Homo sapiens: one gene and its partner. The protein of the gene in region 1 purifies or fractionates together with the protein of each later gene. This does not show direct contact. Each region holds a gene or a part of one and is shown on either strand. Other genes may lie near its edges.

The links.
Region 2: the proteins of TPTE2 (region 1) and IFFO1 purify together in Homo sapiens (affinity purification with mass spectrometry; 2 studies listed by BioGRID and IntAct, with this or other methods). This does not show direct contact.

Annotation. Positions count from the first base shown.
Region 1 is NC_000013.11:19,558,733-19,562,819, forward strand, and holds the start of TPTE2 (phosphatidylinositol 3,4,5-trisphosphate 3-phosphatase TPTE2), read right to left. Parts: upstream 2,801-4,087; 5' UTR 2,702-2,800; exon of another isoform or gene 2,607-2,701; intron 398-2,606; 5' UTR 296-397; intron 1-295. UniProt on the Homo sapiens protein: Acts as a lipid phosphatase, removing the phosphate in the D3 position of the inositol ring from phosphatidylinositol 3,4,5-trisphosphate.
Region 2 is NC_000012.12:6,538,708-6,543,401, reverse strand, and holds the end of IFFO1 (non-homologous end joining factor IFFO1), read left to right. Parts: intron 1-1,548; coding exon of another isoform or gene 1,549-1,629; exon of another isoform or gene 1,630-1,752; intron 1,753-1,759; coding exon 1,760-1,890; intron 1,891-2,813; coding exon 2,814-2,919; 3' UTR 2,920-3,863; downstream 3,864-4,694. UniProt on the Homo sapiens protein: Nuclear matrix protein involved in the immobilization of broken DNA ends and the suppression of chromosome translocation during DNA double-strand breaks (DSBs).

The sequences.
Region 1 (4,087 bases):
AGTGCTTTAAATCAGAAAACAAGAATTAGCTAGCTTACACATTCCACTGAATAGTGTCAAAAAAGATAAACGTATTTAAAATAAGTTGTAAGTCCAGCAAATATAAGCTTGATGGGTTAACTAACATATTAAGTAATTACAAAGATTCATTTTTTTACAAACTTTTAAACTATTTTAATAAAATGGCTATAGACCTCACTGTACTTCTATTTATCTGTGCATTAATAAAAACCTGTTAAAATTCCTTATTTAGTACTTCTGAAAAAGTCTAGTCAAATAAGATCACTAAAATTACCAGAAAAGCTTTGAAATACTGATTGCAGATTCATTTCAAAGTAGATTTAACACATTTCAGGATCTGGTGTTTAAATCATGAATGTCTTCACCAGCGTCAACTCTGAAAATATAAAAATTTTAGTCAGTGCTGGCTGTAACAGTACTGGCATTACTTGAAAAAATAGAAATAAAAAATACATTGTCAATCATGCATTCCACAATTTTCTTTTTGAGCTCGATAGTATATATATTTTTTCTCATTAAAGATTCAAAACCAAAAGTGGTTTCTCTTTGCAGCAAATATACATTAAAATAGAGTCTCTGTACAGCCAAGGGCTCTGGGCCCTGGCTTGCCCCATGTCTCTGCGCCTCCCTGGCCAAACCCAAAAATAAATATAGTGTTATTGTTCTGCAGGGCATAGAGGCAGTGCTCTCCTACCCCCGAGGAGGCTGGGTGGGAGCTGATGGGGAAGCCCTGGCCACCCCAGGGGTCCAGGGGCTGGAGCCTGCTTGGAGTTATTGCTTCAAGGCCGGGCACTAATGCCCAATGCAAATGATGAGAGGAGGAGCAAAGGGAGCATGGGCCTTTGCTCTCCAAGTCCCACTCTGCTCTGAAGAGGGGGTAGGATTAAGCAGCAGCAAAAGCATCACCCACTGGGAGACTGTGGCCTGCACCCCCTTCCCTCCCTGAGATAGGCTTCTGCCTCCCACACATCCCCTGCAGCCCCCTGTGGCTTCGGCAAGGCCCCCTACACTCTTGGGGCACGCTATGGCTTGCAAGGGGCAGCACTGTGCCCAGAGCCCGGACACACGTTTCCAGCTTCTGACATCCCCTAGGAGGGGGGAGGGGAGGGAGTGGGGCCTGCTCCCAGGGGCTGATGGCATTGCCCTGGCCCTGCCAGCAGGCTGTGGCACTGCCCAGACCCCAGCTCCGCCCCAGCCCTTGGGGCTGACCCCATGCTAGGCAGGTCCTGCCAGAACCCCCACCAGTCCCACCCCTCGCCTCAGTCCATCATGGCCTCGAGCATCTCCAAGAACAGCTTGTGCATGGGCACCTTGCCCTCCAGCTTCACCCCATAGAAATGGGCCAGCACTTTGCCCGCTGTCTGGTGGAGGAGCGGTAGCGTGAACAGCAGCCTGCCTGGCCGCCGCCGCTCAGCACCCCCTCCGGTGCCAGCTCGGCCGGCTTCATACTCCAGCAGGGCCTCGTGCGGAGCTTCTGGCAGCTGCTCCACAGCCTCGGCATCTTCGATGGGCACAGAGTCTGAATTGGCAAGGGCCAGGGCCTTCAGTAGAACGTACTCCCCTCGCTCCAGCCGCAGGGACTGCAGCCGCCGCACCAGTTGCAGCAGGGCAGCCCCCAGTTCCCCCAGGCCAGCTGCCCGTGCCCCCTCTTCATCCAGGACTAAGTCCTCAGCGAAGGCCAACTCATCCTGCAGTGGCAGTGAGCGCTGGGCCACACCCGGCACCAGCACCTCCATTCATACTCTCTGCAGTACTGACATCTGGTCAGACAGCGACAGCGATGAGAAGCCTGGGATGCTCTTGGCCCAGCTGATGGTGACCACGATCTCTCGGTCAAAGAGGTCACAGAGGGTAGCCACGGCTGGAAGGTGCCCATCAGGGCCAGCAGGGTCGGGCAAGGCATAGAGCTTCTCAGGCTCAACCACCATTAGATGAGACACCAGTGCATTCACTGGGCCTGTCGTCTGGGGGCCTCCAGCGACTGCCAGGGGCCCAGCAGGGAAGGCGCCCGGGAAGGGCAGCGGGTCCACCTCTGGCACCGCTTGTACTCCCGCCCACCCCGGACGCGGTCCAGGCGCGCTCCCGCAGGCTCTTGGTGAAGCGGCAGGCCTGACAGGCCTTGCGTCTCCGCTTGGTGATCTCACACTCGTTGGAGGCCAGACAGCTGTACTCCATACTCCCCTGGATGGTCCTCTTGAAGAAGGCTTTGCAGTCCTCACAGGATGACACACCGCAGTGGTAGCCGGAGGCCACGTCCCCACAGACCAGGCAGAGGCGCTTGGACAGGGAGCTGAGCACCAGCTTCCCACCGCCCTGCTCGCCAGGCCCAGCCCCCTCCCCATCCTCCTCTTCCTTGTGGCCTGGGAGGCAGTGGGTGGGAGCTGGACCAGGGGCCAGGGCCACAGGAGGCTCGGGTCTCTGTCTCCGAGGAGCCCTTTGGACTGTCAGGCCTGGCCGGCTCTGCCATGATGTAGTGGCTCACTGCCCACCACCTGGCTGGACATGGCGCTGGTCACCTGACACGCGGCTGCCCTCCTGCCCCAGCATGCCGATCCCAGGCACACGGCGGGGGCCGCTCCACCTCCTCGCGACCGGCCTGCAGGTCCACTCTAATATTCCCGCTGTCGCAGACGCCGCCACCTCCCGGGGCGCCGCGCCCCGCCCCCCAACCTAAGCACACCTTTGGGAAGTTGCCTAAAGTTGCTACGCCTCCCCGCAAGCCCCGACGCCCGCGGGAGACCGCTACCAGGTTATCAGGAAGTAAGTGGGGAGAGCCAAGGAAGAGGAAGTTCTTCCCGGCCGTTGCGATGACCTTTGACCCAGAGAGGAGGGTGGCCCCAGGCCCCTTCGAGCGCCCCCACGTGGTCTTCAGAGCCCCTTTCCCGACATAGAGACTTCCCCGTCTTCCACCCCGGCCAGCCCCAGGGACTTCGGCAAGCGAGGGATTGAACCCTGCCCCGGGGCGGGCTGGATCGGAGGCCCAACCCTGACCCGGGCCAGGACCCGCAGCCAGAGCCAGATCTTGCCCCAGGCCGGCCCACCAGAACTCGGACGCCAGATCCCGCCTGAACCCTGACCAGTCCGGACCTCGACTGGGCCCCGACCGTGGCCCAGACTGGCCCCAGAGCCGGCCCCCGCCTGGAGCCCGCCCTGCCCTCCTCCCTGCTGCCTCATCACACAATTTCAAGAACTAAGTGGCCGGAAGCGGTGGCTCACGCCGGTAATCCCAGCAGGCCAAGGTGGGCGGATCACGAGGTCATGAGATCGAGACCATCCTGGCTAACACGGTGAAACCCCGTCTCTACTAAAAATACAAAAAAACAAAAATTAGCTGGGCGTGGTGGCGGGCGCCTGTAGTCCCAGCTACTCGGATGCTGAGGCAGGAGAATGGCATGAACCCGGAAGGCAGAGCTTGCAGTGAGCCAAGATCCCGCCACTGCACTCCAGCCTGGGCAACAGAGCAAGACTCCGTCTCAAAAAAAAAAAAAAAAAGAAAAGAAAAGAAAAAAGAAAACAAAACAAAACAAAAAACTAAGATATGTAACTATAAATATTGTTATGTCTTTGCAGGTTATCTCAACTTCCATCAGGCCTCAGCTGAAAGCTCATCTGCCAAAACGCATCAGCACTCATGTAAAATAAAAGGAGTAGGGAGGTGACTTTGTACACATACTGTCCAGTGTTTGGCTGCCAGTTTCCCTCTTGTGTGTAACTATTCTAGGTATGACTCCTTGAGCATGAAATGAGGGGTAGATAGAACAGCACAGCTGTTGGGCTAACAAGAATTGGTGTGTAGACTGGGCACAGTGGCTCACCAGTGTAGTCCCAGCACTTTGGGAGGCCAGGGCAGGAGGATCACCTGAGGTCAGGAGTTCAAGACCAGCCTGGCCAACATGGTGAAACCCTGTCTCTATTAAATATACAATTATTAGCTCTCTATTAAAAATACAAAAATTAGGCTGGGTGTGGTGGCTCACGCCTGTAATCCCAGCACTTTGGGAGGCCGAGGCAGGTGGATCACGAGGTCAGGAGTTCAAGGCCAGCCTGGCCAAGATGCTGAAACCCT
Region 2 (4,694 bases), on another chromosome or scaffold:
TGCCAGTGATGGGGAGCAGCTGTAAATACAGATGAAGCTTCACTCACTTGCCCACTGCTCACCTCCTGCTATTTGGCCTGGTTCCTAACAGGCCACAGACAGGTACTGGTCCGTGGCCTGGGGTTTGGGGACTTCTGCATTAGGGGAACCGTTAGGAGGACTTGCTGACCTCAGGAGTACCCAAGGTGCCTTTATCTTTGTGACCTTTGATCTCTCAGGGTCACTAAGATGGAGCAAGGTAAAGCCAAGGCCCAGAGTGGTGGGCGGGAGGCAGTTCTTCCCCACCGCTCCTCACCTCTCTCTGTCTCCTCCCGTCCCACCCCCAAGTCTGTTCACACAGCGAGCCTGCAGTTTTCAAGGTGGCTTGTCAAGGACATCTCCTGACATGCACGTTCACCTCCTGACCTTGTTCCTGCTGTAAATTTGTGAATTAAGTGGGGACATAGACATATGCAGAGACTACTGGTGGCAGTACTAGCCTTGTATTTCAGTAGAATATATTTGGTTCATTTCCTTCTTCCCAGTCTCCCTGAGTGATGGTTCCAGAACCCAGCTCCCTGCACTCCGGTTCTTCCAAGGTGGAGAAATTGGGGTGTAGGCAGCTGATCTGAACAAGGGCTGGTGGCACTGTATTTTCCCCCTGGGTTGAACAGTCACCGTGTCCTGCTCCTCCCACTACTGTGGGGCCCCAGCTGTGGATCCAAGCCTGCCAGGGAAGCTGTCCCCACTAGGGCTTCTCACCCAGCCAGCCGCCATCTCACCCCAAATGTCACTGTCCTGACCATCTCTGCTGTCTGGCCCTGTAACCTGTTTCCTTCTTTCTCTAAGTTCCCACCCTCTCTGTCCAATCCACATTATGGCAGCTGGTATCCTCCCCGTTCTCTTCACTCAGGCAGTCACGAACGTCATCTCCAGGAAGTTTCATTTTGCTTCCCCTTGCGGCCCCTGCCCTTTGTACCCAAAACAAAGAGAGGCAGTCGACTGTCCCTGGCACTGAGTTTGTGCTGCCTGGGCCCTGCCTCTCCGCCTGCCTCAGAGTGTGGGCTGCAGAATGGGCCCGGGGAGGGAGACCGGATTTCTTTGATTCTGAGCCCCGTGTTTTCCACGTGTGACATTTCTGAAATCAGGACAGGTCTCAGAATCAATGGCACCTCCAATATGGGAGTCTTCCTTTTAGTGTCTGAAAATGGCTTTTAGGTGAGAAAATAAAGTGATAAGGAGAGAATGGTAAGAGGATTGGGCCCCTTTCAGCAGTTAGCCAGGCTTGTATGCCACGGGTCACAGAGAGAGTTAATTCCCTTCGAGGTCTGGGTCTGCCAGGATGAGGAAAACCTGTCGCTAACCCTTACGGGAGCTCACAGTGCAGTGAGGGGACAGCCCAGGACCAGCGCAGTACAGGGGATGAGGGGTGAGCCGGGCCCCATAGGAACCTGTGTGGCCCTGGGAGCCTGTGGATCTGCTCCATCCCGCCCACACTGACTTTCCTCACCACTCTTATCAGTCTTAAAAGAACACAGCCTGCAGCAGTACCTTTGCATTCCTCCATAGGCAAAGATTTCCAGGAAAAGCAGAGGAAACAATGGTGTATTCGCTGCCTTCTGCCTTGGTCTGGTTTATTTTAAAATCTGAGCCTTCAGTAATGGCTGCCTGGGCCCCCGGCCCAGCCACTGCTCTTGGCGTGTTGGCCTCCTGGCGGGGGCAACAGAGGCGCTGTGAACGCCACCTGTTAACCCCGATGGCCCTGCCTGCCCCACCACAGCTGGAGTTGGCCACGGCCAAGAACGACATGAACCGGCACCTGCACGAGTACATGGAGATGTGCAGCATGAAGCGCGGCCTGGACGTGCAGATGGAGACCTGCCGCCGGCTCATCACCCAGTCTGGAGACCGGTAGGCGCCTCCCCTGGGCATGGGGCCTTCCAGGGGGACACAGCGGGGAGAAAGGTTGGAACACAGCCCCAGAGACCCTCAGGCAATGACTGGGTCACATCTTGCTGTGGGGCTGCCCTTTGGGAGTTACCTGGTGGGGCTGGCCCAGACCCACAGCTCTCTCCCTTGGCAGTTGGATGAGCTATGTCCATTCATGACGGGAGGGCTGAAACCTCCCAAGGCCACCAGCTCTGGTGGTTCCCCTGGTTAGAGGCAGTTTAAAAACTGGCAAGGAACAGAAGGGTTGTGGGGGCAGATTTTTATCTAAAGTCAGGGCCATGATTTGTGCATTTGACCCTGTGTAAGTTACACCGCAACAAGAAAGTGAATTTTTAAAAATCACAAAAATACTGCAGATAGACATAAAGCCAAGGCCCTAGAGTCAGGGTGCTGGAGGCTCAGCAGCTTCTCTCCTACTGTGACTTCAGCTATTTCTTTTTTTTTTTTTTTTGGCTCACTACAACCTCCGCCTCCCAGGTTCAAGTGATTATCTTGCCTCAGCCTCCAAGGCGCCCGCCACCACACCTGGCTAATTTTTGCATTTTTAGTAGAGATGGGGTTTCACCATGTTGGCCAGGCTTGCCTTGAACTCCTGACGTCGTGATCCACCCGCCTCTGCCTCCCAAAGTGCTGGAATTACAGGCGTGAGCCATCATGCCTGACCTCAGCCTCTGAGTTCCCAAGACACAGGCGGGGCCCATTTCCCTGTCAGGGTGGGTTTGGAGAGAGTTCAGTCCCTGCCGCTCCCTCGCCATCCCGCGGCCCCGCCCTCGCTTCCGGTACTTCTCACGGGCTGCCAGAGGGTGAGGCAGCAGGAGGAGGAGTGCCGTCCGTCTTCAGGATTCCTGCCTGCCCCAAGGTTGACAACTGGTGTTTTTTTCTAGAAAGTCTCCTGCTTTCACTGCGGTCCCGCTTAGCGACCCGCCGCCGCCGCCAAGCGAGGCTGAGGACTCCGATCGCGATGTCTCATCTGACAGCTCCATGAGATAGAGACCTGCCTCCCCCTTGCACCCGAGGCCCTCGCAGCAGGGAGCTCAGCGAGGCAGAGGGTGGGGCTGCACAGAGGGGAACATCAGCTGCAGCTCTGCACCAGGCCGGTCCCTGGGGACTGGGGCGCTCCTCCCTCAGGCTTTCTCCCTCAGTCTTGGCTTCTCCAGGGCTCTGGGGTGTCTGGAGCTAGGCTTGGCCCTACCATTCTGGGGCCATTTCCACCACAGTTGGGGCTCTCCTGCCTTCACGCGTGGGTGTCTGCTACTTCCCCATCTTTAAAATGCTGCCAGAGCGATTGCGGCCCCTCACCTTGTCCACGTATCAGGAATGTGAATGTGGGACCTTTCCTCCATCCCTGTTGTCCGGAGCCAGCTCACTGTCTTCCACACTGGTGCTAACTGGCCCAGGCACTGGAGTGGAATAGAATGCAGCTGGAGGCTACGCATGGCCTCTGCAGCACACGCAGCTGGAGAGGGCTTCTGTCCCTGTCAGCGGCAGAGGGCGTTGGGGCTGGCCGGGGCACCTTGTCCCTGCTATGGTCCACGTGCTCACGCTGTCCACCTGCCAGGTGGAGTGTATGTGGCTGTGGCCCTCCCTCGTGGAGGTGCCGTGCTTTAAAGAGGCCTTAGTGCCCGGGATGGGCACAGTGTTTTGAAGGGAGGTGGGAGCTCTTGCTCTCCTGGTCACTGCAGAATGACAGAGAAGGTGAAGCTCCATGCATGTGTGCGCGGGTGTATGTGCGCTCAGGGTCTCTGTTTAAGTATCAGCTAAAGATGTGCTTCCTCCGTGTCTGTCATACACTGAGACCAACAGGCTACAGTGTCCCTGATTCTTGGAAAAGCCTGGAGAAGCTGGGGAGATGCGGTTCACAATGCCTCGGTATAGGAGGCTGTGTTGAGCTGACATTCAAATGGATTCTTTAATAATAATGAAACTGGCGAGTATTTATTGTGCACTTTGGTGTCACTGTCTCAAGCACTTCCTAATATTCACTAGTTTGAACTCTGAGGTAGGTACTTTTTTTTTTTTTGAGATGGAGTCTCATACTCTGTTGCCTAGGCTGGAGTGCAGTGGTGTGGTCTCAGCTCACTGCAGCCTCTGCCTCCGGGGTGCAAGCGATTCTCCTGCTTCAGCATGCCTGTAGCTGGGACTATAGGCATGTGCCATGAAGCCTGGCTGATTTTTGTAATTTTAGTAGAGACGGAGTTTCACCATGTTGGCCAGGCTGGTCTCAAACTCCTGACCTCAGGTGATACACCCACCTTGGCCTCCCAAAGTGCTGGGGTTACAGGCGTGCGCGCTCTACCGAGGTATGTACTTTTGTCTCCACTAGGTAAGCACACGTGCAAAGTGAGGCCCGGGAGTAACTGCCCAAAGCAACTGAGCCGTTCAGTGGCAGAGCCAGGGGTCTGGACCTAGGTCCCAGCTACACGCCTTGCCCCTACCCAAGTTCCCCTAAGGACGATGATGGAAATAAGTCACCCTGACACATCTCAGTTCATCTTCCTCAAAACTATGCGAGGTGGGCATTTTTACCGATTTTTAAACATTATATAGTCCTTACCGCCTTGGGCATGGTTTTAGGTACTTGGTTTACCTAGATGAATCCTGCTTGAAGACCTTAGGGGCTGGCCACGATGTCCTCAGATAAGACACGAGGGCACAGAAAGCAATAGAGCACGTGCTCAAGACCTCACAGCTGCGGAGGCCAAGCTGGAATTGCCCGCTGCAGCTCAGCTCCAGGCTGAGCTCCACTAACCAGTCAGCGTCAGAGC